Linked DNA regions of Homo sapiens. The protein of the gene in region 2 interacts with the protein of the main gene of each other region in a biochemical or structural test. Each region holds a gene or a part of one and is shown on either strand. Other genes may lie near its edges.

Region 1 (4,609 bases), on a different chromosome or scaffold from region 2:
TTAGAAAAGTTATTACAACAAATAGTGCTTTGGAAGATCTGAAACTCCAAATCAATGTGCTCCATCAACCATAAGTAGATCTAAGAAGCCCTGACTGAAAATAACACAAATGTAAAAAGTTGATAAATTTAAAGATTATAAAATTGGTTTATTGTAAAAGCAATTCAAGAATACCCAGTTAAAATCTTATCCCAATGCTACCCAATACAACCAAGAAGCAGTTAAGCACTTTTACATTAGGAACAAGGACATAAAACAAGAGACCACATCAAGGCTATGATTCAAACTCAAAAAGGGAAAGGACTCTTAGGTCTCCTTCAGGTCAGTACAGAGGGCATCGTAAGATCAAAGCACTGTGCCAGGTATCACAGTACTGCTACAACACTGAGGTATAACTGGGCAAATTAAAGTTGAGGGGTAAAGGAAGATCTCCATATTCATATTGTTTTGTGGGTGTACTTAGGTGACTGAAACTCTAGAACAGCTGCCTTTAATGGCAGCACGGTGTAAGACAAGTCTTTATTAAAGAGAAAGAAGTTTATAAAGTTCTCTATCAAGGTCCCCCTAAATCTTCACAACCCCCCCCCCAAACTTTCCCACCCTCCCCCTAAGCTAAAGCTAATCTGCTGATATATAAGATATAATCTTAATCTGTGGCTACTGGCAAATTATAGGCACTCCTTCCAAGTAGCTTTGATCTTCTGCACATTAAAAAAAATCCCAACAACATGCTATGTAATTCATATACCCAATTTTGCATTCTAGGTAGAATTTCATTACTACTCTAAAACTCCATCTGCAGTGGCCATTTCCCCCCAGACTTAATTCAAGATTTAATCTTTCTGCTGTTTTCTTAATAAAAGCCTTAGAGTCAATTATTATGAGTGATCAACCTATGAACTATTATATACAACACAGTGATTGCATTTTTTTGAGCACTGAAAGTACTTAAAATAAAACTTCTTACTTCCAACTTTTGCCCTCCTCCAAATTGAAGGGCCAAAATACTTAGATTTTGTAATTGGGGGGAAAAAAATCTATCTTCCCAAGCTGAGGCTTTTCATAGCAGCTTTTGCCAGGAGAAGAGATTTTATGCCTGTTATGAACCCTTGAAAATAAGGGCTTATTCTAGAAACATTGAAAGACCCTTAAAACACAGAGGTGCTAGCTGGTGCCACTTTAATTCACAACCAACTATTACTTCATAGCTTATATTGAAGAGTTAATTCATGCTCGTTTTGTTCCTTTAAAAAATACTCTTTGGAAACCATTATTACTCCTGTAGACACATACTCTAGTTACATCATCTCTTCCTGTAAAAATAAAGGTATAATCATGATTATCTCTATTTCTTTGCTAAATTCAACTACCAATATACATTTATTAATCTGATCACTTTTCCAGCTAACTCAAAACCTTATAGTATTCTATCCAGGGTCAATTTTCAGCATAGAAGTAGGAGCAAGTCTTGTAAGTAAGAACAATCTTGAAGGCAATATTTTAATCTAGTCGTTAATGTGTTCATTACAAATGAGAACTACAAACTAGAATTTACTTCCAAAACTAAGGCAAAGAAAACTTCCAAAGCTAAATGAAGGTAAACCACTATAAAGCTTATTTCTGTCATGCACATTATGAACCTACTCACTGAATTCCAATCGAGACTTAAAAATTAGTCCAAGGGAGAAAATAAAGCCATTTCTGGTTTGCTCCTTTCCAATTCATCAGATAATATCTACCGTATGCCCAGAGGGCGTGGAGCACTCCCCTAGGCACTATCCACAGTAATAGCTCTTTCTAGAACACTAAACTACTTCAAACATCTGCAGACTGCCCCAACCAGATTTAAACTACCAGTGAAATATAAACTACTAGTCATGTATTCTAAATGCATACAAAGCGCTACCATTTTAAAAATTAACTGGAAAGCAGGGAAACCTAAAAAAGGATACATTCCACTACCACACTATTATAAATGTTATGTTTGGGTGTGTGTATGTATATAAAAGAGAGAGCAGATAATCGAGATTTAAATAAGGTGGTAAAAAAAACCAGGAAATGAAGATTTTACCAAAACAACTACAATAACCATCCCAAGCTACAACTATTAACAGATTCACTAATATGGTCATTTGCCTAGGTTCCGACAAAACCAACCAACCAACCAACCCCCCCACCGACCCTGCCAAAAACAAAAAAAACAAAAAACCCAACAAAACAGAACAAAATGCACACCCACAAAATTATCCACCAAAATCTATATTAGAGTATGTGGCAATAATTAATATATTTATATGGAAATTGTCTCATGCCTTATAAGCTCCTAAAATAAAATCAAGGTCATTATGTGACTAATGATAGCACTAGGAGGAAAAGAAAATACTGAAAGTAAAACAGTCTTCAGCCTTGGTTTCAGCTATCTCTTCAAATCAGCATTAAGTATTTAATATCAGATATAACATTTTTGGCTTGTCAGACCAGTAAATCATGTTTTTCCACTGGACAAAGGAAGCTGAAGAAACAACTGTTGAACAAACTAAATGCTGTGACATGAAGCATCTGACTTCTAAGTCTGAGTATTTAGTTAAAATGATTGGTGAACATTTAACTGGGCAAAAGGAATGGCATCCATCATCCAAACAGGCTCACTTCCCCCAGCCCCCAAAATGAACAGTAGTTTTAATAGCAAAAGAAATAAAAAGTTTTTTTCTTTTGATTCTTTAGAGCCAACTGTGAAAGAGGTCAGCAATACATTAACAGCAGCAATGGACAAGGAAGAGCAAAATAGAGGATTAAAGTATCTTGCTGGACGTTTGTTCATCTTTTTCTGTATTAGCCTGAAAACTGCAACTGGCTTATGGAAATTTCCGGTGCATGTGTCTCCTTAGATCCTTCACAGATTTAGAATTCAGTCTGCCTGAGGGCTCTATAACCATGTAAGAAAGCTTTCTTTATCTAGCTTGGTGGCAGCCAAAACAGACTCCATGTCATTAAGGATGTCAGAACTCAAAGCTTCCTGCAGACTTGGCATCAGCTCCTCTCCTTCTATGTTCATTCCATCTCCTTCCAGTGTTCCAAGGTCCACATTTGTCCCAGGAATGGCTTCAAGGTAGTCTGGGAAACGGTTCTGCTGTGAGGGCAGGGTGCTTTGGTTGATAGTATCACCTAGTGGAAACACACAGAGATAACAAAGTCCTTTTTGAAAAGCTAACATCAGGGCTGTATCATATGAGCACAGAGAAATGCACAGGGAAAGAAAAGCGCTCCTGACTGACCTAAACTGATACCTAGAATTTATATCAGGTCAAACAACTCACAGATAACAAAATAACAATGCCAAGTTTACTTTTGCTTCAACATTGTTCAGATATCCAATAACAGCTTGATTGCTATTATGTGCTGAGCACTAAAGGAGTCATGAAAAAAATAAAAAAGCCCTTGAAAAATTATATGCAGCAGCGGGAGAAAGAACAAGTACACAACACGACAGCATCACTACCCTGTCTTCCAGATAAGCACCACCATAATAAGACTAAACATAAACATGAGTGGTATAGACCTACCTTGGCCTTAAATATACTTTGGGAAACACTAAAATAGAAAGACTGCAAGAATACTTTATTCTACCCTTAGGAGATGCACCTTCCTAACAGCAAAACAAGCCTTCCCAGAGGGCTTTGAATAAATCCATCTTCCTAGCCTTGCTTCTAGGTTTCCCAAACTTACTTGGCCACAGAGCCTTTTTTGCATATGACAACATTAACACTCCTCAGAGCTTCAATAGAACATACTTTCAGAAAAACTAACATAAACCATTAAGTGCTACAGGGGTCTGGAGAAGAGAGCAATACAGATTAGAGGAGTAAGTAAAGGTGTTGTGTGTGAAATGGGTTTGAAGTGGCTCCTAAGGATGATTTAACATCTAGATAATCAGAGAGGAGGGGTAGTGTGGATTCTAGAAAGCATCAAAGCCAGGAGCTGGATGAATACAGGCACAAAAGCCTTGCTAAACACTTTCAGAATAGAAGCAGTTAGTGAAAGAGTTGGTAGCTAAAGAACAGCTTCATTTCCCTGCCAATTCATGCACTCTGGCAGTTGTCAACTCTAGGGCAATGGTTGCCAGGTAAGCCACAGGAGAAATGCTTCCGTAATTACCCCTGTGAGGCAGGTATTTCTTAGCTCCTGCAAGACCCCTGCAACTATTCTTTTTTTTTTTTTTTTTTTTTTTTTTTGAGACGGAGTCTTGCTCTGTCACCCAGGCTGGAGTGCAGTGGTGTGATCTTGGCTCACTGCAACCTCCGCCTCCCGGGTTCAAATGATTCTCCTGCCTCAGTCTCCCGAGTAGCTGGGATTACAGGTGCATACCACCACATGTGGCTAATTTTTATATTTTTAGTAGAGACAGGGTTTCACCATGTTGGCCAGGCTGGTCTTGAACTTATGACCTCACGTGATCTGGCTACCTCGGCCTCCCAAAGTGCTGGGATTACAGGTTTAAGCCACCGCACCTGGCCTTCTGCAACTATTCTAACAAAGTAAGTGAGCCCCACCTCCTAGTCTTTCCCACCTGGTTTCCTGAGCCCCATAACACTTAAGGTGGACCAAAAAC
Region 2 (3,338 bases):
CAGGGGATCTGTTATCTCAATGCTTACTATTGCATGAAATCATACTGTTTTATATCACATGATAAACACCAATAGCAGGGGGCGAGTCTTCTAGTACCGACTGAGGAGATTCCCTATCAAGAAACTCACAGAATTTTTTAAGTTTGTGTTAGGTAAACTACAAATATCTGAAAGTATTTCAACTTGTTAGGTTTTACACTCAAAAGGATAAGATTCTTTTGTTTCTTCCTGGTTAGGCTTTTTAGAAATTTCAAATCCCACAGCCAAGCTTGGACATATCTTGCCCATATCTAAATCAAGAGATTATAGCTATTGTTTGGTTTTAGAAACTTTGGTGCTATCAAGCCTAAGTATATGATTAAATGATATTAAATGCCAAACAATAAAAAATACTTCCCACAGGTATATATAGAGAGAGAGATTTTAAAATAATCATACACAACTTTTTAAAAGATTATATGGGGAATACTTACTTATGTAATCAACTCTAACTTTAGCCCTTCACAGCTGTATTATAACTTTATTTAACAACTTAGTAAAAGTCAAAATTGATGGTTCTTAACATTGTATGTTGAGAATATAAAGTGCCTAAAAAAGACACATTCTGCCCAATGCTAGTTCTTTCAATATTACCACCAAACTTCTGTGAAAGACTTGTAATGAAAAGAAAGACTAACTGCAACATGGAAGATGATTTTTAAAAAAGTTCATTTGCCAATTTTAACAATCTAGAAAAAAAGAAAAGTCTGACTATAATACTTGATGACACAGACATTATGTTTAAGTAGAAAACACAAGAATAAAAAAAGCAATTATCAGAAAATATTGCACAACTTCAGTTGTTTCCTCCAAATTTGCTTTATGTACTTGGGTGGATATAAATTAATAAACAGAAATTTAAGCAAGATACATGTAACAATTTAACAGAACCTGATAATCTAATTTCTTTCAATTTTTCTCAAATTCATCTTTAAGTCTTTCCATCATGGGGCTCATAAGGAAATTTAAGCAACATATGGATACTACAGTTGAATGTCAAATCTTTACAAAGTACTTATGACATACTACATTCCTCTATAATGCAATTATGAATAACCTTCATGACACTGTGTTTTGTATGTAGAAAACTGTTAGAGTTCAATATTCAACTCAATATAAAATAATAATAAGAAACACTTCTGATGTTAGGTTGAGACCACTTTTCCTTTTGCTAATGAATGATTTTTTTAGCTGTAATATCACTGAGGTGAACCAATAAGTCACCTTTGAGTACATATGAAAAAATAAACACATGCTAAATGGATAAAACATTACTACTACATCTTTACTAGACCATCTCTACCTCTAACACTTCAGAAGCTTAGAGATTTAAAGTATTCTTACATTAACTGCAAGAAACAAAGGAGAAATTCCTTCTTTTTTGAGATCACAACTATGAAGTCATATGGTTATACAAATTCTGCGTTTGTGTGCAAAACATAAAATACAATTATCTTTATTCTCCCTGCTTAGTTTTGTCAGTCAGCTAGCAGGATGTAATAGATACCTTTCCAAGAAACAGAGACTGAGATGTGTTTTGTATAACTTCAATAACCTCAGCACTACAGTAATGAGAGATGCAGTATCCTTTTGCTATGGTTCAAGACAAGAGGCAAGGAGGTCAGAAGAAAGAGAATAAATCAAAATTTTTACAACTGAGTAACTATTTCTCATTAGGTCTCACCACGGTGCCACCTTCATTTTTACATAAACGTGGTGGCATAATTCAATCTCAATAAATCAGAATTCTTAATATTTAAAATTTAACTTGACTTTCCATTATCACCATATTAACAACCAAAATAATTAGATAAAACACATAGGAAAGGGTAATATTAAACCCCACCTTAATAGAGTTGGTTTCTTGACACATTAACTTATTTTTTATAGAAAAGGGATAGTGCATCTCAGTTTGCTTACAAGCTAGGAGATCACTTTGAATTCTGCATTTCCTAACTGCAAACAGAATATAGCACTTATAACAGGTTATAAATAAACTGGTTTTCAAGCATAGAGCCAGCCCCAACGATAATAATACACTATTTAAAAAGACCTAAGGCAATGAATTCCATTTCCAATGGAAAAAAAGAACTGTGCAAACAAGCTTAAAACTACTTTTTTGTGTGTGCCAGTGTTATAAAATGTAGCTTTTAATAAAACCTTGACCCAAATGCCAGCAACTTCAGAAAAGAATTCGGGTGGGGAAGGGGAAGAGAAGAAAGTTATTTCATTTAGGAAAAATAACTACTATCTTTTTCCTAATCTTCAATACACACAATTTAAACAAATACAGCTGCTGTTAACACTTTACACAATTCCTATGTACTGGAGCAATAACAAGATCTAAATACAATTATATTTTTAAACATTGGGTCAAGGCTTTACATAAAAATACCATCCTACTTTTCCCACTAAGTTTCTAAAATATCACGTACTTTTTCCCCCAACATCTGCAGCCATCCAGGAATTTTAAGGAAACTTTTGTGCACGATCTTAATTCCTAATCCCTGGCTCTTTGGGCTCAGTGACAAAAGATCAAAACCACCAAAATGGTGGTTCACTTGAAGTCAGATAAGAGACCCTGGCTCAATTAGTCTCATAGGATGAAAGCAGTGCTGCATCAACTGGCTCCATGCAGGAGGGGCACGTGAAGGATCTCATCAACCAGTCATCTATACAGTCCAGGTGATAGATGTGCATGCACGGCAGAAATCGAATTGGGTCCCCATAAACAAAGTCCATCATACAGATCACACACCTGTTGAGAGCAATGGAGAGAAATCAGAAGGCATTTTCAGAAGTGTCCTATTCAGAAAACTCTTTAAATCCCATTAAAGACAGTGTTAATCTGAGTAACACATCAGAATGCTTTGCCTGTCATCTTATTGCCAAAGCATGCAAACTGAATTTTTTCCTAATGTTGATCTGTCCACAGTCTCTTATTTCAATCCCCTGAGAATTTGCAGGACTTAGGAGCAATCAACAGAGCAAAGAGAAATGGATTACATATGCATCAAATCTACTGCTGTGCTTGTAAACAGCTACATATTATAGCAGATACCTGAAGGAGAATGGGATTATTTTAGGTAGAAAAGCATCAGTTAGATCAACTTTGTTTTCTTGCACTATTTAGTGTAATCCTGGACTAAGACAATTTTCATTTTAGTAACTGTAAAACAGAAACACTAACTTCGGGCAACTTTGTTTCCTTGTGCTATTTAGAGTAATCCTAGAGTAAGATAATTTTCATTTTAATAACTGTAAAAACAGAAACACTAACTTCAGCCTACTTACTGGGT
Region 3 (4,609 bases), on a different chromosome or scaffold from region 2:
TTATACCCTACAGATAAATCCAAACTCTGGATTGTGTAACGAAGATCACCTCTCTTACTTCAAGTTTATTGGTCGGGTAGCTGGAATGGCAGTTTATCATGGCAAACTGTTGGATGGTTAGTATTAAGTATAAACTTTTTACAATATAATTACCTGTTTTCTTTCACTTGGTAATCATCCTAAATGTATTTGGTTTTTTGCAAGGTTTTTTCATCCGCCCATTTTACAAGATGATGCTTCACAAACCAATAACCCTTCATGATATGGAATCTGTGGTATGTCTTTTTCACTTATAGTATAGACGAAGTATAATTTAACAAGCAGCTTGAACATTTTGAAGAATTTGCTTTTAATGACATGGAAATTAATATATTATCATGTTTCAAAATACAAATGAACTTTTTCCTCAACATTTTATTATGAAAATTTTCTAACATATAATAAAGTTGGAAGAATTTTACATTGGACAGTTGTATATCAACTACTCACAATTGCTTTTTTTCTAGATTTACTTTATCACATACCTATCTGTCTATCCATCAGTCTGTCTTAGTTTCTTCATGCATTTCAGAGTAAGTTATAGATAACATTAAACATCCCACTAAATACTTCAATAGGTTATACCAAGTTATATGTCTTTTGAATCAGTATTTGCATTATGATCTTTTATGATGAATGTTATATATATATATATATATATATATATATATATATATATATATTTTTTTTTTTTTTTTTTTTTTTTTTTGAGACAGAGTGTCACTCTGTTGCCAAGCTGGAGTGCAGTGGCGTGATCTTGGCTCACTGCAACCTCTGCTTTCCAAGTTCAAGCAATTCTCTGCCTCAGCCTCCTGTGTAGCTGGGACTACAGGCGCGCACCACCACACTCAGCTAATTTTTGTATATTTAGTAGAGACGGGGTTTCACCGTGTTCACCAGGATGGTCTCAGTCTTTTGACCTCGTTATCCGCCTGCCTCAGCGTCCCAAAGTGCTGGGATTACAGGCATGAGCCACCGCACCTGGCCAAATGGTGTATATTTTTTAAATGGCAGTCGAAAGGCAAAGCGTTATGGTTAGGTTCCTAGAAAAAAACAGAAGCCCAAGGATTAAACCCCGGACTGTAGCCGTGTTGTTTCCTGTGCTGCTGAATAGCCTCACACAATGTGTGTTCACATGAATTCCAGGGCATCTTCCTTAGTACCAAGTTCATTTTTTATTCTTTTCTTATTACATATTAACAGCACAAACAGTGTGATTCTTTATAAATCATAAGATTGCACAGTTACTTGAGTTGGTTCATTGAGCCTCTATATTTATTAAGAGATTTTTCTTTAACTCGGGCTGGGTATAAACAATGGCCTCCTCATAGCTACTTAAACATTTCACACTTAGTGCCGGACACAGGGGTGTGCAACTGTAATCCCAGCACTTTGGGAAGCTGAGGCAGGTGGATCACTTGAGGTCAGGAGTTTGAGACCAGCCTGGCCAACATGGTGATACTCTGTCTCTACAAAAAATACAAAAATTAGCCAGGCGTGGTGGTGCGCGCCTGTAGTCCCAGCTACTTGGGAGGCTGAGGTAGGAGGATCACTTGAGTCAAGGAGGTCGAGGCTGCAGTGAGCCACAGTCGCCCCACTGCACTCCAACCTAAGGGACAGAGCGAGACCCTGTCTCAAAAAAAAAAAAATTAAATTAAAAAATAAAAATAAAACATTTAACACGAAGTCACATAGGCATATGAGGAATGTGCTAAGTGCTCCTGGATATCCAGAGAAGTTAGGTTTTATCTGAAAACTTCTGTATTCATTCCTTTAACTGGATGATAAAATCTGTACCTCCACTGCTTCCACATAAACATAGATTCTAAACTTTTAAGTAGGCACCAATTGATTAATTGATTGATGCATTTTTACTCTTGCCCTTACCTGTCATCCATCTCTTTTTGTAATACACACACATACACACATACATTTTTGTTTATATATGTGTGTAAGTAAAGGATGTCCATCTGACCTCTCATCTTTTACCCAATTATTCAGACCCTCTACATACTGTTTTTTGCAATTTCAGGTGTGTTATAGATACAAATTTTAAATATGTAATTTTTCCCATCTAGGATAGTGAATATTACAATTCCCTAAGATGGATTCTTGAAAATGACCCAACAGAATTGGACCTCAGGTTTATCATAGATGAAGAACTTTTTGGACAGGTTTGTGAATTTTGATCAGTTAAAATGGCACATAAATTGTGAGACAAATGTTTAGATGTTAATACGTACACTTAATACATTCCTAGGCTCTGTTTTTACATTCATTTCCCAGTAACAAAAGCTGTCTCTGAGCAAGAATTTGTACTTTCTTTAACATTTGACTCGTTCCATATTTATTTTAGTAAAACTAGTATTTTAAGTTTTCTTAGTTTTTAACTTTTGACTGGACTTAATTTAAAACACCAAGTTTCTCGTATAACTACAATATGTATACTTTTTAAATTTTTCTCGCTAAAATAACATATCAAGTTATTGTGTTTAATTTTAGACACATCAACATGAGCTGAAAAATGGTGGATCAGAAATAGTTGTCACCAATAAGAACAAAAAGGAATATATTTAGTAAGTATTTTATTAGTATGTATTTTATTGGATATAATTTTGTACTTTATTCCAGAAAGACTCTTCTTACCATCTTTCTCTGTCCCCTTGTCCAGAATCTCAGTGTTCTTTTTCTCTATCACAATGCAGTAGCAAGCACTCATATTCAGCTTTTACCTTGGTCTCAGCTAGCCTTTAGTTTTTGTTTCTAACTAGAATAATTGTGCCTCAGAATTTTGTCTTGGTTCACATGAAAATGAAATGTTGTTTCTTTTTAGTCTTGTAATACAATGGCGATTTGTAAACCGAATCCAGAAGCAAATGGCTGCTTTTAAAGAGGTATTCATTTTCTTTTATTTGCTCTTCCATAATGTCACAGTATAACCTATAAGTTTCAAATATTAGGCCTCATCACATCTGAGAAAAATAAGTATATGGCTTGTTTTGTGAAATCATTCTAAATTATATTTTTATATTAACTAAATATTCCATTCAGTCATTCAAGAAGTCTAGACAATAAACATGGACAGGTCCCCTTTCCCCCAAGCCTTTTCCCTATTCCATTCTCTTCACTTTAGGACAGCAAAAGAACAAGAGTGCTTTAGGGATAGTATAACATATTGTTTGTTTTTCTAAATAGGATCACCTTACACATTTTGTTTTGTGACTTACTTTCTTCTTTTTTTTTTTTTTTTGAGCGCGGAGTGAGTCACTTTGTCGCCCAGGCTGGAATGCAGTGGCGTGATCTCGGCTCACTGCAACCTGCACCTCCCAGGTTCAAGCAATTCTCCTGCCTCAGCCTCCTGAGTAGCTGGGATTACAGGTGCCCGCCACCACGCCTGGCTAATTTTTGTATTTTTAGTAGAGACATGGTTTCACCATGTTGGTCGGGCTGGTCTCAAACTCCAGACCTCAAGTGATCCATCCACCTTGGCCTCCCAAAGTGCTGGGGTTACCAGTGTGAGCCACCGTGCTCGGCCTACTTTCTTCTTTTATCAGATATTTATTAGGGATATTTACATGTGACGACATATAGCTGCCTTTCTTTGTGGCTATATTTTATTCAGAATATAAATTAAAAAGTTACTTAAATTTTTCCAATTGGTAGACAGATTGTCAGAGCACTCATTTCTTAAGCTAACTTACAATCTTCTGTTAAATATGTATCTGGCTGGGCATGGTGGCTGACGCCTAAAATCCCAACACTTGAGGAGGCTGAGGCGGGAGGATTGCTTGAGCCCAGGAGTTCGAGACCAACGTGGACAACATAGGGAGACCTTATCTCTATAAAAAATTAAAAATTTGGGCGCGGTGGCTCATTCCTGTGATCCCAGCACTTTGGGAGTCCGAGGTGGGCAGATTGCCTGAGGTCAGGAGTTTGAGACTAGTCTGGCTAATGTGGTGAAACCCTGTCTCTACTAAAAATACAAAAAAATTAGCCGGACGTGGTGGCGTGCACGTGCAGTCCCAGCTACTCGGGAGGCTGAGGCAGGGGAATTGCTTGAACCTGAGAGGCAGAGGTTGCAGTGAGCCAAGATTACGCCACTGCACTCCATCCTGGGCAACAGAGCGAGACTCCGTCTCAAAAAAAAAATTAGCCTGGTGTCATGGCATGTGCATATGGTCACAGCTACTTGGGAGGCTGAGGCTGGAGGATCACTTGAGCCTGGGAAGTCGAGGCTACAGTCAGCTATGAGCTATGATGGCACTACTGCACTCCAGTCTGGGCTACAGAGTGAAACTTTGTCTCTAAAGTGTGTGTGTGTGTGTGTGTGTGTGTGTGTGTGTGTGTGTGTCACATACTTTTTCATAAATTCAGTATTGAGTACTATGTGTATGGTGCTGTACCAGGCCAAAAGACATAGGTCCTGTTATTAAGGTATGTATGATGTAAAGAGTGAAATGAACAGAGGCAAGCATAAAGTGCTAGGTGAGCACAGAAGAGAAGTACAAACCAGGGAGGGGCAAAGGAAGGGACAAAGAAGGACTAGAGGGATTGGCCAACCATGGAGAAG
Region 4 (4,609 bases), on a different chromosome or scaffold from region 2:
TGGGATTACAGGCATGCGCCACCACACCCGGCTAATTTTTGTATTATTAGTAGAGACAGGGTTTCTCCATGTTGGTCAGGCTGGTCTCAAACTCCCGACCTCAGGTGATCCACCCACCTCGGCCTCCCAAAGTGCTGGGATTACAGGCATAAGCCACCACGTCCGGCCATAAATTTTTTTTTAAATAACAAAACTAAACTTTGTATTTATTTATTTTTTTACCTGAATCAGCCTGGGTCCCTTCCACATTTTGAGATACAGATTCTTCGGCAGTGCTACAGCCATTAACATTTCCAAATGTAATCCGTGCATTTAAGACATGAAACAAGGGAATTTCTAACAAACAAAATAAAAACTTTTATAAGTAAACTTTACTGAGAATAACAATAATAGTTATCATTTACTAAGTGCTTACTATGCCAAGTACTTTGATAAGTATAATTTTATTTAAGCCTCATAACAACCCTTCCCAATACACAGACGGGAAAACTGAGATTGAGAGTTGTGTATTTTCGGTCAGGCGCGGTGGCTTACACCTGTAATCCCAGCACTTTGGGAGGCCAAGGCGAGCTGATCACCTGAGGTCAGGAGTTCGAGACCAGCCTAACCAACATGATAAAACCCCATCTCTACTAAAAATACAAAAATTAGCTGGGCGTGGTGATGCATGCCTATAATCCCAGCTACTTAGGAGGCTGAGGCAGGAAAATCGCTTGAACCCAGGAGGCAGAGGTTGCAGTGAGCCAAGATCATGCCACTTCATTCCAGCCTGGGCAACAGAGCGAGACTCCATCTCAAAAAAAAAAAAGAGAAAATGAGTTATGTATTTTCTCCTAGATCACAGTGAGTAAGTGATCAAGCCAGGGTTCAAGTATCATGAACATACAACTATCCAAAATTAATACTCTTCATGAGTAGTATGTATGATATATACATATATAGCATTATGCATACTAGCTTGGGACGTAGATCATATTTACATATCAAAGGATCTTGGTGTCAACTGTCTTCCTCAAATAATTATCTAATTTGAAGTCTCACTGAATTAAGGTTTGACATTAAAACAATGACTGTGTCATGTTTTTATGCCTTTTTATATCTGTCAGCACCATTTGCAAATAGAAATGATGGTTGGAGATCTCTTGACTTTGATACACAAAATGAACCACTAATCATAACACTTCTTTAAATCAAACCACAGGAGAACTCTGACCTCCTCTGTTATGTCTATAAGCTACTTTGACCTAAAGCACTCCAATTCCCTGAAGCATCCTGCCACCCACATGCTGCCACCCACAAACATGGGCAGAACCTCCAAGTGTTGCTGAAGTTTATTTAGCAGTACCTATTTTGACAGGAAATCCAGGTGGGAATTCCAATTTGATGAAATCTCTCAGTCTTGCAAAATGAGCACTCGTTCGAGCCATTAGGTCAATGATGGGAATGACCTGCTCCACCAGAGAGAGGGGAAACTCTTCACACATCCACAACATTGCTTTAAACCTGCAGAATTCAACCAAGAAAAGACTGAGGTCATCTCCACCAGATGGGAAAAGGAGATTATTGCTATGCAGTAGGCTAGACAACAGCAGCTTTACTCCACACTCTGCCCAGTCATCTCTTAATTCAGACCTATTAAAGGTCAAATGTCTAGGGCCACAAGGAATTCACATCACCCTAAAATCTGGCAATAAAGGCAAGCGACCTGCATGACAACCTGCCACGATCAAAGCCTTAATTGACAGCAAGCATGAAGAAATGATAGCGGGTGGAACAGTTTCATTTGAATTTGATCAGCTGAAGCTGGTTAGCAATAAAAAAAAAAAGGAATTCTTACATCCAATCTAGATTCTATTTGGAAAGGAGCTAATAACATGGACAATCTACTGTTAGCTTTCATGGCAAAGTAATTTTAAAATTATTTTTTATAAAAAGGGGCAGAGGAGGCTGGGCGCAGTGGCTCATGCCTGTAATCCCAGCAGTTTGGGAGGCCCAGGCGGGCGGATCACAAGGTCAGGAGTTCGAGACCAGCCTGACCAATATGGTGAAACCCTATCTCTACTAAAAATACAAAAATTAGCTGGGCGTGGTGGCACGCGCCTGTAGTCCCAGCTACTCAGGAGGCTGAGGCAGGAGAACCGCTTGAACCTGGGAGGCAGAGGTTGCAGTGAGCCGAGTTCGTGCCACTGCACTCCAGCCTAGGCGACAGAGCGAGACTCCGTCTGAAAAAAAAATAAGGGTGGTGGGGAGGGCAGTGGAATGATCCAACATAACACCATAAAACAGCACAATTTCTGAAACATACATAGGTTGAAAATGGCAGCTGAACCTCTCTTACTTCTGTGTTCTAATCGTCAGCTCTTTCGGCCTTCCAATGTCCCTGTCTTTCAGATCAAACTCTTCATTGAAGTACTCATCAGGCGTGATGGCTGTGGGGTTGTTTGCAGTAGCACATTCCGTGGTGAGGTCCTGCTGAGCCAGAACTCAGGAGAGTCAGAAATGCCAAATGATGTTCACAAGTGAAGGCCTGTGGCACTCAGTGTCTGAGGTGGACGTGTTAACCAGCTAAAGACCGGGAAGTTCTATTCACTAACTTTTTTGCATGGAACAAGAAAATCTATGAGGATATCACCAAACTACACAGGAAGTGTAATGGATTTCTTCATTTTAAAATATTTCTCTACTCTCCTTTACATTTTTATCTCCTGATTATAACAAAGAAAAAAAGAAAGAAATATCTGAAAGTGCATGAGACTTGGAAGACTTGGAGTTGAAGTTCTAGCTGTTTCCCTGTCTAGCTTTGATAGTGGAAAGGTAATTTCATTTTTCTGACCCGCAGGGACATCCACTGTACCAAGTTCATATAGTTACTGTGAGCATCAAGTAAGAAAATATTTGTTAAGGTGCTCTGTTGCAATATAAAGTCCTGAATCCTTTTTAAGTTCCATTTCTATAAAGAGGCCCCTCGTTTATAATGGATAAGAGGGAAAGCACCTGATTTCTATAATCACTACCCCTCCTCTAAAATCCTTATTTATTTTCAAAGAGTCACTCATCTAATTCTCTTCCAAAAGAGTATCTCAAATTCCAGCTTGGGGGTATCTTTGGCCTTTACATAGAGTGGGCTGTTCAGGATCCAGTAAATGCCATCCCAGACACAGACAAGTTGTTTCCTTTCATCTAACTGCAATGAAAGCTCATTGCTTCAACTTACCCCTTGTGCACCAAATTGGTGTTCCACAGTTCCCAGCAAAGATTCCAGCGGGTTCCTGTCTGCTACAGAGGGGTAGGGAGTTTAAAGTCTAATATTATATCTCACTTGTGGCTATAAAAAAAAGATCTTCATTAAAGTTTCTGGTCCAAGCTACCTCATTAGGAAATGCAATTACAGACTGGCTGATCAAATCATTCACAATAACCATAAACTAATTTATCCTTTATAGGGTGCTTTTCATGAGGATCTCTAAACTAGATAAACAGTTGTAAGAATTAAAGCAGAATAATGGGAAGAGTCTGGATTTTGGAGTGAGCCAGACCTGGATTCCAACCCCACCTTGGCCACTCGCTACCCATGTGTTCTGGGCCTCAGTTCCCTCATCTGTCAAAGTGGAGTAATGGCAATGGTGGTGGTGGTGCTGGTGAACAATTACTGCATGCTTACCACATACTGCAGGCGCCATTCTAAAGGCTTCCACGTCGTAACTCATCTAATCCTCTCAATAACTCTAAGGAAGGTTGGGTATCACCTGCATTTCACTGCTGAGGAACTAAGGCACAGAGCAGAAGTAATTTCACAAGGCCATAGAACTGGTGGGGCTGGGATGGGGCTGGGATGTGGCAACCACATGCAATGTTTTTGCTTGGACCCCAAGTTCTGTCTAAATCTTTCATCACAATAGTTTGGACTAAATCACTCATTCCAATGATAAATATTCTCAAATGTCCTTATCTCCTTTTTTGGCTGAATTCAACAATTGTTCTTGATAACACATAAACAAGCCCTCACGAATAGCTTTAATTACAGCTGAGGCCAACTATGGGGAAACACCTCCAAGAATGAGTCAGACTAAGGAAATTTTCTTTCCTTTTTCTTTTTTTTGAGACAGAGTCTAGCTCTGTCACCCAGGCTGGAGTGCAGTGGGACAATCTTGGCTCACAGCAACCTCCACCTCTGGGGTTCAAGCGATTCTCCTGCCTCAGCCTCCCCAGTAGCTGAGACTACAGGAGTGCGCCACCACGCCTGGTTAATTTTTGTATTTTTAGTAAAGATAGGGTTTCACCATATTGGCCAGGCTGGTCTCAAACTCCTGGCCTCAAGTGATCTGCCCACCTTGGCCTCCCAAAGTGTTGGGATTACAGGTGTGAGCCACCGTGCTCAGCCAGGAAATTTTTTTTTTTTTTTTGAGATGGAGTTTCACTCTTGTTGTCCAGGCTGGAGTGCAATGGCACGATCTCAGCTCACCAAAACCTCCGCCTGCCAGGTTCAAGTGATTCTCCTGCCTCAGCCTCCTGAGTAGCTGGGATTACAGCCATGGGCCACCACACCCAGCTAATTTTGTATTTTTTTTTAGCACAGATGGGGTTTCTCCATGTTGGTCAGGCTGGTCTT
Region 5 (3,968 bases), on a different chromosome or scaffold from region 2:
AGTGCAGGCTTCCGAACCCAGCTGGCAGACCCCATCAGCTGGGGTGATGGCCAGGGCTCCTAGGGTCCCTGAAAGATGAGCACCCAGGATGGCGACTCATGCAGAAAGAGCTGCCTCCCTCCAGGGCGGACTCCCCCATGTGCCAGAAAAGTAGGTGCTGTCCCTGTCCCTGCACAGCCAGAAATAGGGCTGGGCTCTCCTTGCGGCAGAAGGGATTGAGGTCAAACAGGAGGAACTCGTGGAGGCCAAGGGGCAGCACCCCTGGTCCACCACCAGCCAGCCTTCACTGCACAGCGTCAGGGAAGGGAACCCCAAGGCTGGCACTCAGAGTGTGACACACCTCCGAGGGGAGGAGGAAACTCAGAGTGTGACACACCTCCGAGGGGAGGAGGAAATGAGGACCAGGCCAGTTTCCTGGTGGAACCCGGCAGTGCCAGAGCCTCTGAGCACCAGGCGCTGAGGTTGGTGCAGCAAGGCCCTCCTTGTACCAGGACTGCAGCAGGCTCCTGAGGTGAGGGCGAGTGTGTGGGAAATCTGGCGAGCGTGCCACGTGCATGCGTGAGTGTGGATATGTGGGGAGCATGCGTGCGCGTGAATATGCGGGGAGCAGCCGCACCTTCTTCTCGTACACGTGCTGCCACACGATACCGGCAAAGAAGCGATGCTGCATGATCTCCTTGGCGTCCTCGGAGCCCCCGCCAAGCCTGCAGGCAGGAAACAAGGCCACAGTGTCGGTACCGCCACCTGCCCAGGCCCTGGGTTCAGGCCCCTTCCTCCTGTGATGTAGGGCCCGCCAGACAGGACGTTCCGGGGCCAGGGAGGGGAGCCGGTGGTGCAGCGTCCCTGAGCAGCTGTGGGTAGCAAAGCACCACAGAGCTCACGGCAGGGCAGGGGCTTCCTGAGTGGGTGGGTGCAGGCTGCAGGGTTGGGGACAGAGGCCCAACTGACCCCGGCCTGCCCGCCACTCTGCTTGGGCCTGAGGCTTTGGAGATCAGCCCTGGCCAAGGACATCAAGCTTTGGCTATCAGTGTAGTCTGGGAGGTGCCAGGACCGCCTGGCGCAGGGGCAGGTGCAGCCTGGGGATGAGGGGATGGAGGTGTAGCCTGTAGCTGGGATGGGCGGCCCTCACCTCTGCTTGGGGTCCTTCTTGAGCAGCCCTGAAAGCAAGGACTTGGCCTCGGGACCAAGCGTGCGCGGGAAGCGGATCTCCTCCATGAGGATGAGCTCAAAAAGCTTCTCATGGTCCTGGTTGTAGAAGGGCAGGCGACCGCACATCATCTCGTACATGACCACGCCCAGCCCCCACCAGTCCACTGCACGGCCGTAGTCATTGTCCTCCAGCACCTGCACGGGTGGCAGATGGGCAGGACTCGGCATCAAGGGGTGTCCGGGACACTGCCGGGGGAGGTGTGACGTGCTTGGGGCACAGAGAGGACACAGCATTGCGTGTGCTCAGGACGTGGGGACGCAGCAACGCGTATGCACGCAGGTGGGGCGCACACCTCGGGGGCCAGGTACTCAGGTGTGCCGCAAAAGGTCTTCATGGTGGCACCGTCCTTGATCCCCTCCTTGCACAGCCCGAAGTCTGTGATCTTAATGTGCCCGTCCTTGTCCAGCATGAGGTTCTCCAGCTAGGGGAAAGGTGGCCTCAGGTCAGTGCCGCCAGGCCCCCAGGGCCCTGCCCCCCTGCCTGCCCGCCAGCGCACCTTGAGGTCCCGGTACACCACGTTCTTCTCCGAGTGCAGGTAGTCCAGGGCTGACACAATCTCAGCGCCATAGAAGCGGGCCCGGTCCTCGGAGAACACACGCTCCCGGGACAGGTGGAAGAACAGCTGCGGGAGGCGCAACCTGAGGCACAGCCGTGGCTCGGGCCTCTGCCCCCATGGCCTGCAGGGCTGGGGTTTCTCAGACCGGGTCTCGGCATTGCACAGGGAAGGGACCAGCCACCAGAGGGCACGGGGGCCTGGAAAGTCTCAGAAGCCCTAACTCAGCAGGAACAAGTCACCCCACAGCAGGCAGCTGCCTGGGCAGGCATCACACCACCCACCCAGCAGGGAGCACCGTCTGGTGCCATGGAGAGTAGCCGAGGCTCCGGGAAGGACCGGCCCCACCATGGGCGGCCCACAGGCCGCGAAGTCCATCCCCCGCAGCCCCAGCCCCTACCTCGCCCCCGTTGGCGTACTCCATGACAAAGCAGAGGCGGTCGTGGGTCTGGAAAGAGTACTTCAGGGCCTGCAAGGAAGGGGAGCTGGAACTGCGGCCCCACAGGCAGGACGGCAGCCCCGCACCACGCTGCCCGACACCACGCTGCTTGATACCACGTCGCCTGATACCACACCGCCCGTAGCCCCACACCACACTGCCCGACACCACGCTGCCTGATACCACACCGCCCGATACCACACTGCCCCACACCACACACCCCATCACACTGCCCCACACCATACACCCCCACATCACACTGCCCCCATGCCACGCTGCCCCACACCACACTGCCCCACACCACACTGCCTCATGCCACGCCACCATCAGGCTGGGCCCCGGCAGCCCCTGAGGTGCCAAGGAGTGTTTGAAAGGTGAGCAAGGTGGCCTGGGCTCAGGTCCTCCAGGGTGAGTTGGGACCTCAGCAGGGGACAGTGCTCCCAGCACCAGGGCCTTCGCAAAGGGAGGACACACCCTCCCAGGCGAGACCCACCCTCCCGCCTTCCACCACAGGCGACTGTGCTTTTAAAGCAAAGGCCCCATCTGCAGGAGAATCGTCCCCAAACACAGTGACCTGGAACTAACCAAGTGGCTGGACCCTGGCCCCCTTCACAGTAAATACCTCCTGGGCCAAGTCCCCAGAACAGGTTCTGCAGGACAGAGCCCGGGCCTCAACAAAAGCCTGGCAGGCAGGGCTGCAGGGCATGGGGAGCTGGGGCCTCCTGGAGCCTCGGCAGAGTGCAAGGAAGACCAGGGCCACCTGCCCCACCCACCTGCCCGCACACGGGAGCAGCGAGCACAGCCCCTAGCCCACACTGGGCACCTCCACAGCCTGACCCTCCAGGGCAGGCCTGTCTCACCAGCGGCGGAGTCCACGGTGTGTAAAGCCCTCACGTGCCCAAGAAGACAGGACATCGTCCCCTAGAGACAGCCCCAGGAGTCGCTACCTGGCCCCAGCCCTTCAGCCCCATCTGGGCTCCCACTCACTGTGAGGAAGGGGTGCCTGGAGTTCTGCAGGACGCGGTTCTCGGTGAGTGTGTGGGCCACCTCGTCCTGTAAAGCAGGGCTGGGTGAGCTGCCACCCCGCACCCTCATCTCCACCCTGCCCCACCGCCCCGGCCCCACCTTGGCCACGATGACTTCCTTCTTGAGGATCTTCATGGCGTAGTAGCGGCCTGTGGCCTTCTCCTTCACCAGGATCACCTTGCCGAAAGTGCCCTTGCCCAGCAGCTTCAGGTACTCAAACTCGTTCATGGTCTATGGGCAGGCACCAGGGTCAGCAAGCGGCGCTGCCAACAGTGCCCAGCTGGTCGGCATGCGTGGGGTGGCATGAGGGGCCCCAGAGTCGGAGGCAGAGCCAGGAGAGGCGTCCACTTCACACCTGGTGGCCTACTGGGCTCAGCGGGGAGTCCAGGCTTACAGGGAACACATGGCTGCGGCCCCAGCTCAGAGCATGGGGTTCAGGGAAGGGTGGGGTAACATTGCCCAAGCCTGGCAGGGCTCAGCAACCCCAGTTTTCCTCTGACATGGGGAAGAGGACCCACCTGGGAAGCAGCTGCGCCCTACATGGAAAACCGGCCTAGGTGGAGATGCCGTGGAGTGCTGAGTGTCTCCTGGGCCGAGCTGGGACCCCATGACCCACCCAGCCCTCCACAGTCCAAGGCAGCCCCAGGCACAGGCAGAAGTGGGGACAGGCCTCACCACGCGGTGCTTGGGCTTGGCCAGGGACACCTCCATCTCTTCAGCCCCTGAGTTGTCACTGGGTG
Region 6 (4,609 bases), on a different chromosome or scaffold from region 2:
TCATTCTCCTGCATTCTAATATTTTTACTACCTGTGTATATATCCCTAAAGAATATGGTGTATTTTTTGGATGTTGTGAAACTTCAGGTGAAACATTCACATATTGCTGGTGGGAATGTACCATAGTATAGTTCCTTTGGGAAACTGCCCATTCCTAAAAAAATTAAACTTAGAGTTACCATATGACACAGGATTTCTACTCCTAGATATACACCAAAGGACAATGAAGGCGTAATGTCCACACAGAGACTTGTATATGAATGTTCATCGCATCAGTGCATTATTTATATTAGCCAGAAAGTTTTTTTTTTGTTGTTTTTTTTTGAGACAGAGTCTCACTCTGTCACCCAGGCTAGAGTGCAGTGGCGCAATCTTGGCTCACTGCAAGCTCTGCCTCCCGGGTTCACGCCATTCTCCTGCCTCAGCCTTCCGAGTAGCTGGGACTACAGGCGCCTGCCACCACACCCGGGTAATTTTTTGTATTTTTAGTAGTGATGGGGTTTCACCGTGTTAGCCAGGATAGTCTTGATCTCCTGACCTCGTGATCTGCCCACCTCGGCCTCCCAAAGTGCTGGATTACAGGTGTGAGCCACCGCTCCTGGCCCAAAAACATTTTTAAAAATCCAAATGTTGACTGGGCATGATGGCTCAAACTAGTAATCTCAGCACTTTGGGAGGCCGAGGTGGGCAGATCATTTGAGCCCAGCAGTTTGAGACGAACCTGGGCAACATGGCAAAACCCCGTCTCCACAAAAAATACGAAACTTAGTTGGGCGTGATGGTGCACACCTGTAGTCCTAGCTACTCGGGAAGCTGAGGTGGGAGGATCACGTGAGCCCCGGGAGATAAAGGCTGCAGTGAGTTGTGATCACACCACTGCACACCAGCCTGGGCAACAGAGTGAGACCCTGTCTCAGTAAGCCAACCAACCAACCAACCAACCAACCCAGATGTTCATGAACTGGTGAATGAATAAATGTGGTATATCTATACAATGGAATATTATTTAGCCATAAGAAGAAATGAAGTACTGGTACATGCTACAACGTGGATGACCCTTGCAAACATTATGCCAAATAACAGAAGCCAGTCAGAAAAGAACATATATTGTGTGGTTCTATTTATATGAAAAATCCGGAATAGGTAAATCTTTGGAGACAGAAAGTAGACAAGTGGTTGCGTAGGGCTGGGAATATGTGGGGAGAATGAACAGTGACTGCCAATGGGTATGGATTTCTTTTGGAAGTGATTAAATGTTCTCAAATTAGATACTGGTGTTAGTTGTACAACTCTATGAATATAGTCAAAACATTGAATTGTACATTTTAAATGTGTAAATTGTATTGATACATGAATTATAGCGATAAAGCTGTCTTAAAAAACTCATGTAGCTGGGTGCGGTGGCTTATGTCTGTAATCAGTCCTAGCACTTTGGGAGGCTGAGGTGGGCGGATCACAAGGTCAGGAGTTTGAGACCAGCCTGACCAATATGGTGAAACCCCATCTCTACTAAAAATACAAGAATTAGCCGAGTGTGGTGGCAGGCGCCTGTAGTCTCAGCTACTCAGGCGGCTGAGGCAGGAGAATTGCTTGAACCTGGGAGGTGGAGGTTGCAGTGAGCTGAGATCGTGCCATTGCACTCCAGCCAGCCTGGGCAACAGAGCAAGACACTGTCGAAAAAAAAAAAAAAAAAAGAACTCATGTAAATATTATAAATTCTTCTGCTGTTAGCTTTTTTGACTCAGCGTTATAAGCCCAAGCAAATCATATTTTGAGATTCATAAATTTTTGTTCATTTAATTTTGTATTCCTCATTTCATATTTCGTTGTATGAATTTATTAATCAATTTTCCTTTTTGCTATTGAAAACAGTGCTTCAGGCTGGGTGCAGTGGCCTGTAATCCCAACATTTGGGAGCCAAGGAGGATTCCATGAGCCCAGGAGTTCAAGACCAGCCTGGGCAACATAGTGAGACCCCTTATCTATTAAAAAAATTTACAAAACCAATGCTTTATTGGACAGTGTAGTGCATATTTACTTGTATGATATACTTTCTAATTTTTTTAAGAGGTAGAGTCTCACCCTGTCATCCAGGCTGGAGTGCGGTAGCATGATAATAGCTCACTGCAGCCTTGAGGTCATAGGCTCAAGCAATCCTCCCATTTCAGCCTCCCAAGTAGCTAAGATTACAGGCATTTGCCACCATGCCTGGCTAATTTTTAAAATTTATTTTTCGTAGAAACAGGGTCTATCTATATTGCCCAGGCTGGTCTCGAACTCCTGGCCTCAAACGATCTTCCTGCCTTGGCCTCCCATGCCTGGGATTACAGGCATGAGCCACCATGCCCGGCCTGGATTATACATCTTTAAAACTTTCTTCCAAATTAGAATTTGATGGGATTATTGATACTTAGTAATTTGTTTATTTAGAAGGCATTTTATTGCTTTACCTCAAGATATTTAGTTCATTTAATTATACAATTTAAAATTGAAGTTAGTAGAAGTACTTTTGTCTTCTGAAGGTCGTCTGTAGTATCTTCGGCAATAGAAAAGGTAGGATTTCTTAACTGTTGGACCTTTACTGGTATTTTAGTGTTATATGAGATGTGTCCTCATTGTTGTGTATGCCAATATATTTTATAGAAAAAGCCACGAATGAGTACAACACTACAGAAGATTGGAGTCTTATTATGGACATATGTGACAAAGTTGGAAGTACTCCTAATGGGTAAGATGTCCAGTCATGCTCAGTGAATGTCTAGGAACTTGATAACCAGTGTCTCTTTTTGTGATGTAACTTTGAGAGGAAAATGAGACTTTATCACAGTTGACCCTTGAACAACACAGATTTAAACTGCGAGGGTTCACTTATACATAGGTTTTCTTCCACCTCTGCTACCTCTAAGACAGCAAGACCAACCCCTCTTCCTCCAACTCATGATTTCCTTAACAACATTTTTTTTTCTCTAGCTTACCTTATTGTAAGAATACAGTATATTATGTATATACAAAATATATGTCCATCTACTGTTTATGGTATTGGTGAGGCTTCTGGTCAAGAGTAGGCTGTTAGTTGGCTGGGCGCAGTGGCTCACGCCTATAATCCCAGAACTTTGAGAGGCCGAGGCGAGCAGATCACTTGAGGTCAGGAGTTCGAAACCAGCCTGGCCAACATGGTGAAACCCCATCTCTACTAGAAATACAAAACTTAGCTGGACATAATGGTGTGCGCCTGTAATCCCAGCTACTTGAGATGCTGAGACAGGAAAATCGCTTGAACCCAGGAGGCAGAGCTTGCAGTGAGCCGAGATGGCACCACTGCACTCCAGCCTGGACGGTAGAGCGAGACTCTGTCTCAAAAAAAAAAAAAAAAAAAGAGTAGACTATTAATAGTGAAGTTTTTGGGGAATCAAAAGTTATACACAGATTTTCGGCTGCGTGGGGTGTTGGTGTCCTTAACTTTCATGTAGTTAAAGGGTCAGTTGTTTTACTTTTGGGACATAAAAGTTAAAAAAGCCTGAATGCTGGATTTATGGGATTAATTTACATGAAAAAGAGTTCAACTGAAAATCTGCTATAGTAACACACATAATTAAAGCCTTGACACAATAGGATACATGATAACAATGTATAGGTGAGTTATTTAAGGAATTCCTCTGGGACTTCTATATGTATGGGAACTTTTAAATAATGAAGTAGATAACACAGTAGATAATATAACAAAAAAGTCTTCAAATAATATACATATAAATATAATAGATTAACAATGAAAAAAGTGAATATAAAAAAGTGCTTTTGGGGAGATGTGGCAATTAGCTGAACTATATGTTAGAAATTTAGAAGAGTGATGAAAGCATTTGTTTTAACATTAAAGCTTTTCATAGTACATTCACATGTTTATACTTGAACCTCTTAAAATTGTATATCATGTTAGATTTTTTTCAAGATAAGCTTTTGCTGTTTGAAAGCTAAACCTGTCTTGAAGAAATAGAAAGATCTGGTATACGTCTCTTGTGTTGACAGATCTTTTGTGAAATGGTTTGTCTCTTAATTTTGGAATACACAACATTTGCAACATGCTTTTTTTTTTTAAAGTTCTATGAGCCTATAAACAAAATATTGTGTAAAATCATTTTATAGATTTATTCCTTTAACAATATGAAATTTCCAGGATTTTAGTTTAGTTTATTTTTATTTTATACTTTCTTTATTTTGAGACACGGTCTCTGTCATCCAGGCTGGAGTATAGTGGCATGACACAGCTCACAGCAGCTTCCTGGGCTCAAGCAGTCCTCTTGCCTCAGCCTCCTGAGTAGCTAGGAGTACAGACACATGCCACCATGCCCAGCTAATTTTTAAGTTTTTTATAGAGATGAGATCTTACTTTGTTTTCCAGGCTGGTCTCAAATTCATGGGCTCAAGTGATCCTCCCGCCTTGGCTTCCCGAAGTGTTGGAATTACAGGCATGAGCCATTAAATATAAAATTATTTGGTAATAGAATAATACCTTAATGTTTGAATTAAATTTATCAGTAAATACTTAACTGTCTCTCTCTCTCTTTTTTTTTTTAGAGCGAAAGATTGCCTAAAAGCCATAATGAAAAGGGTA
Region 7 (4,609 bases), on a different chromosome or scaffold from region 2:
CAAGATCTTTCAATTACAGGTTGTCTTTATATTTGGGGGGTCCCATAGCAAGCCATTTTGTTAAGACGTATTTACATACTATAAGCAGGATCTCACTTATTATACTTTTTTCTATTTCTTTTCCTTGCCAAGAGCTTTAGAAAAGTTTAAGTGGTAATACAAATTTGTAAAAGTGGAAGTGGTGTGAAGGAGAATGAATATTAGATACCTGTTTCTATGGCTTGGGCTTCGTTGGTCTTCCACTGCTCCGCTACATCATTTGCTAATGGATCATCTGGATTGGGAGCACTTAACAAGGCCTGGATCGATAGCAGAACTGTGCGGATCTGCAGTGCTGGGGACCACTTATCTATGAAGGCAACAGGCCCAGTATGATAAAGCATGAAAAAAACAGGCCCAGAACTGCTTCACTTCCCTCCCACAGACCTCTCTGATCTTTGTATAATGTTTACATTCTAAACATGGAATGCTTAAGAGAAAAAGGAGAAAGCTTAATAATAGCATATGCTGATAAAGATAACACTTACCTTTCAAAATATCTAAACATATTCTTCCCAACTTGTCTACATTAGGATGATAAATTTTGGTCATGAAACGTACTTTAGGGGCTGCCATTGGGTATTCTTCTGGAAGGAATAGTTCAAGTTTAAAAGTCCCTCCCTCAAAGGGGGAATCCTGAGGGCCAGCAATGACCACATGAAAATAACGGGCGTTGCTCTCATCTGGTTCGGCTTTGATGCCAGGAACTGGTTCTGCCAGCAAACGCTGGGTTTCCTATGACAGAAAAACAAACACATTTGTGAAACAAATGTCATTTTGCTAGACACCAAAAGTAAAATTAGAAAGTTCATCTCTTAGAACTACGCATAATAGAACAGCTCCAATCTCCCAACAGATTTAGCTTATAAAATGCAAAATTCAAAAAAATACCATTTAAATAATTACAACCAGCTGAATGAAACTGCAAGCGAATACTAATGATGTTATCATACATTTTGGCTACAAATGTCTACAAATATGTTAATAAAATTAGCTTAATAAAACTGATTTTTTACTCAAGTAAAATAAAGTAACATTAGGATTACATAAGTAAGGCAACTTGCTCTAAACTCAACCAAAACCAAGCTATTTAAAAAGTAAAATTAGCTTTTTTGGTGGTTTTTTTTGGCTTGTTTGTTTGTTTTTGAGACAAGATCTCACTTTGTCACTCACGCTGGAGTGCAGTGGCAAGATCTTGGCTCACTGCAGCCTCGACCTCCCTGGGCCCAGGTGATCCTCCCAACTCGGCCTCCTGAGTAGCTGGGATTACAGGTGTGCGCCACCACACCTAGCTAATTTTTGTATTTTTAGTAGAGACGGTATCACCCTGTTGGCCAGGCTGGTCTTGAACTCCTGGCCTCAAGTGATTTGCTCGCCTTGGCTTCCCAAAGTGCTGAGATTACAGGTATGGGCCAACACACTCGGCCAAAAATTAGTTTTTAAACCCACTGAAAACCTCCCCTCTGAAAAATGTAACGGACTAAAGAAAGGAGATAAGAAGAGGCCCAGGTACCTGAACAGGACTAAAGAAATATATTTAACAATGCTGATTACTCTAAAATTGACAATTAACTTCAGAGGAACCCTTAATACTCCCAACAATCATACCATTAGTTCTCTTTTTCATCATTCTCCCTCTCCCCTAAATAATTGTATTATTATTATTTCTCTTCTCTCTTCAAACCTCCAGCATCTCCATCCCCATCCTCACTTGTGGCTGATGTCCTGCTTCCTATTTCATGACAAGTTAGATACTTCCATCAGTTCCCACTGTAGCATTTGGACATTTCCCTGCATCTGCACCCATACACTCTGGTTTTTCTCCTGTATAGATGAAATGTCACGTACTCTTGGCTAGGGCCAATCGGTCTTGAGCACTAGATCTTACTGATCTCTGAAATGTTTGTTCTTCGGTACCATAAAGAAATAGCACTTGAACATAAATTTAATTTATTTAGTAAAGCCATTTTTACTTCCTGCAGAAAGGGTACACTCGCCAGGAGTTTTGCCACAAGAGTATACTGAACAAAGGAGACAGGGTCATTTATAACCTGACGCGTCCACCCTACTGCTGTGTCCGGTTTCCACTGGCTGGAACGGGATCTCACATTCTGTATTTGTCCTGACTGGCTAGCAACTTAGAACTTTTTAAAAGAGGTAAAGGTAGAGGGGAACAAAGGAAGGAGGAAGTAACTTGTGGAATGCTGAGAAAGGTAAAAACACTTTTAAATAAGGAAGAGGAACAGGCTATGACCTAATGCTTGCTTGGACCAGTATAAGCATGCCAGGGCAAATATTTAGGCTAAATTGTGGGAGCTAAGAACATAAAGTATATTGATTTCTTTATTATGGCTAGCAAATATTTAAGAATGTTTGCACAGGTCTTCGAATAAATTTTGCTTCTAAGAGAAGTTACTATTTATTCCTAATTAGATGGGGAGGAAAGTCTTTGAAGAGGAACCTCTACTTTGCTTGTCTCCAATTTCTCTCCTCCTCTTCTGTCTTGAACATACCCTCCAATCAAGCTGTAGTTATCGCTAACTTGTTTGTTAAGGTCACCAATGATTTCCACAAGGTTAAATCAAATGTCCAGTGCTTAATCTTTATCTTACCTAAATGCGACATCTTATCCAGCTGGTCTCCTTCCTCTTTGCAAAGCTTTATCTAACTTCCTATAAACATTCTCATGGCTCTCTTCCTCCTTGTCTGGCAGCAGCTTCCTTTAGTTTCCTTGTTGGTTTCTTCTATCTCCCAACATCGCAACACTGAAATGCACTGGGGCTCTATTCTAGGGCTTCCTCTCTGTTTATACATTTCCACAGTGATCTCATGTAATGCAATGAATTTAAATACTAAACACACTCTATAAGCTGAAGCCTCCCCTAATTCATATCTAGCCCAGACCTCTCCCCTCATCGTGCCTCTTGCCTCTATAACTACCTGCTTGATATACACTCTTGAATGTCTAATAAGCATCCCAAACTTAACATGACCTCCCTATCCCCAACCTTTGCTCCTCCCATAAAGTCTTCCCCACATCAGTTACTGGCAAACCCATCTTTCCAAATGATCCACCTTTTCCTTCATATGCCACACACATCTAGCCTGATTGGCAAATTGGTTTTTTTTATACTTCAAATTCTACTCATGATTGGACTGTTTCTCACCATTCCACTGCTACACCTCTGATCCAAGCAACCATCAGCTCTGACCTGGCATACTACAACAGCCTCCTAACCTGTTCTTCCTGCTTCTGACCTCACTACCTCCCTCGCAGGTCTATTATCCACAGACCCTTTAAAAGTCATAGTCCTGAGCCGGGTGCGGTGGCTCACGCCTGTAATCCCAGCACTTTGGGAGGCCGAGGCGGGTGGATCACCTCAGGTCAGGAGTTCGAGACCAGCCTGATCAACATGGAGAAATCCCATCTCTACTAAAAATACAAAATCAGCCGGGCATGGTGGCACGTGCCTGTAATCCCAGCTACTCGGGAGGCTGAGGCAGGAGAATCATTTGAAGCCAGGAGGCGGAGGTTGCAGTGAGCTGAGATCGTGCCATTGCACTCCAGCCTGGGTGACAGGGCGAGACTCCATCTCAAAAAAAGTCTGGGCATGGTGGCTCACACCTGTAATCCCAGCATTTTGGGAGGCCGAGGCGGGTGGATCGGCTCAGGTCAGGAGTTCGAGACCAGCCTGATCAACATGGAGAAATCCCACCTCTACTAAAAATATAAAATTAGCTAGGCATGGTGGCGCATGCCTGTAATCCCAGCTACTTGGGAGGCTGAGGCAGGAGAATCGCTTGAACCCCGGAGGTGGAGGTTGCGGTGAGCCCCGATCATGCCATTGCTCTCCAGCCTAGGCAAAAGAGCGAAGCTCCGTCTCAAAAAAAAAAAAAAAAAAAAAAAGTCATAGTCCTTGTAATGGGCCCCCAAAAGACGCTCTATATGATGCCCTCACTCCACCTACCTCTCTGACTTATCTTCAGCTGTTCTCTCTCCATCCCCTAACCTTCTCTGTTCCAGACAAAAATTAGCTTCCTTGTAGTTCTTCAACGTGCCAGGCATCCGCTCACCTCAAGGGCTTTGTACTTCCTCTTCCTCCCCAAGATATCCATATGGCTTGCTCCCTCAGCTCCTAAGATCTTCATGTTTTCTCAGTGAAGCCATCATAACTGAAATTGCAAACCCCATTCAACCCTACCCTGCACACTCCCTATCCCCACTCCCTGGCTTTATCTCCACAGCACTACTAACAAATCTCATTTCTACTTATTTTGTTCAGAATTTAAGCTCCATGAGAGGATGGATTTGAGTCTATTTTATGGACTGCTATATCCTCAGCATTTGGAACACTGCCTGGCACAATAGATATTCAATTAATATTTACTGAATTCTGAATCTATTTGATGTTATGAAAAGAGGGAAATAAACGATCAGAATTTCATCGTTAACATCATTAAGGCAGGGTTATTTTCAAGGCAGGATGTGCACATTATGGAAGGAAAACAAAAGGAGCCACTCAGGTATGGGGAAAAATAGTCTAACTTCTACTTATATTTATTTTTAACC

What was found.
Region 1: the proteins of RNF11 (region 2) and YAP1 interact in a test that uses a peptide from one of them, tested with the Homo sapiens proteins (one large-scale study listed by BioGRID and IntAct).
Region 3: the proteins of RNF11 (region 2) and NEDD4 form a complex in vitro, tested with the Homo sapiens proteins (3 studies listed by BioGRID and IntAct, with this or other methods).
Region 4: the proteins of RNF11 (region 2) and ANKRD13A form a complex in vitro, tested with the Homo sapiens proteins (one study listed by BioGRID).
Region 5: of the proteins of RNF11 (region 2) and AKT1, one has a biochemical effect on the other in vitro, tested with the Homo sapiens proteins (one study listed by BioGRID).
Region 6: the proteins of RNF11 (region 2) and STAM2 form a complex in vitro, tested with the Homo sapiens proteins (one study listed by BioGRID).
Region 7: the proteins of RNF11 (region 2) and UBE2N form a complex in vitro, tested with the Homo sapiens proteins (one study listed by BioGRID).

Annotation. Positions count from the first base shown.
Region 1 is NC_000011.10:102,228,258-102,232,866, reverse strand, and holds part of YAP1 (transcriptional coactivator YAP1), read right to left. Parts: intron 3,166-4,609; coding exon 2,927-3,165; 3' UTR 1-2,926. UniProt on the Homo sapiens protein: Transcriptional regulator with dual roles as a coactivator and corepressor. Critical downstream regulatory target in the Hippo signaling pathway, crucial for organ size control and tumor suppression by restricting proliferation and promoting apoptosis.
Region 2 is NC_000001.11:51,270,610-51,273,947, reverse strand, and holds the end of RNF11 (RING finger protein 11), read right to left. Parts: intron 2,798-3,338; coding exon 2,626-2,797; 3' UTR 501-2,625; downstream 1-500. UniProt on the Homo sapiens protein: Essential component of a ubiquitin-editing protein complex, comprising also TNFAIP3, ITCH and TAX1BP1, that ensures the transient nature of inflammatory signaling pathways. Promotes the association of TNFAIP3 to RIPK1 after TNF stimulation.
Region 3 is NC_000015.10:55,836,113-55,840,721, reverse strand, and holds part of NEDD4 (E3 ubiquitin-protein ligase NEDD4), read left to right. Parts: coding exon 1-116; intron 117-204; coding exon 205-275; intron 276-2,117; coding exon 2,118-2,213; intron 2,214-2,541; coding exon 2,542-2,615; intron 2,616-2,872; coding exon 2,873-2,933; intron 2,934-4,609. UniProt on the Homo sapiens protein: E3 ubiquitin-protein ligase which accepts ubiquitin from an E2 ubiquitin-conjugating enzyme in the form of a thioester and then directly transfers the ubiquitin to targeted substrates. Specifically ubiquitinates 'Lys-63' in target proteins.
Region 4 is NC_000012.12:110,026,372-110,030,980, reverse strand, and holds part of ANKRD13A (ankyrin repeat domain-containing protein 13A), read right to left. Parts: intron 3,277-4,609; coding exon 3,215-3,276; intron 2,473-3,214; coding exon of another isoform or gene 2,470-2,472; coding exon 2,339-2,469; intron 1,504-2,338; coding exon 1,346-1,503; intron 337-1,345; coding exon 223-336; intron 1-222. UniProt on the Homo sapiens protein: Ubiquitin-binding protein that specifically recognizes and binds 'Lys-63'-linked ubiquitin. Does not bind 'Lys-48'-linked ubiquitin.
Region 5 is NC_000014.9:104,771,749-104,775,716, forward strand, and holds part of AKT1 (RAC-alpha serine/threonine-protein kinase), read right to left. Parts: coding exon 3,904-3,968; intron 3,460-3,903; coding exon 3,328-3,459; intron 3,256-3,327; coding exon 3,190-3,255; intron 2,233-3,189; coding exon 2,164-2,232; intron 1,833-2,163; coding exon 1,707-1,832; intron 1,632-1,706; coding exon 1,503-1,631; intron 1,345-1,502; coding exon 1,130-1,344; intron 705-1,129; coding exon 617-704; intron 1-616. UniProt on the Homo sapiens protein: AKT1 is one of 3 closely related serine/threonine-protein kinases (AKT1, AKT2 and AKT3) called the AKT kinase, and which regulate many processes including metabolism, proliferation, cell survival, growth and angiogenesis.
Region 6 is NC_000002.12:152,148,264-152,152,872, reverse strand, and holds part of STAM2 (signal transducing adapter molecule 2), read left to right. Parts: intron 1-2,643; coding exon 2,644-2,728; intron 2,729-4,572; coding exon 4,573-4,609.
Region 7 is NC_000012.12:93,410,526-93,415,134, forward strand, and holds part of UBE2N (ubiquitin-conjugating enzyme E2 N), read right to left. Parts: intron 775-4,609; coding exon 528-774; intron 350-527; coding exon 209-349; intron 1-208. UniProt on the Homo sapiens protein: The UBE2V1-UBE2N and UBE2V2-UBE2N heterodimers catalyze the synthesis of non-canonical 'Lys-63'-linked polyubiquitin chains. This type of polyubiquitination does not lead to protein degradation by the proteasome.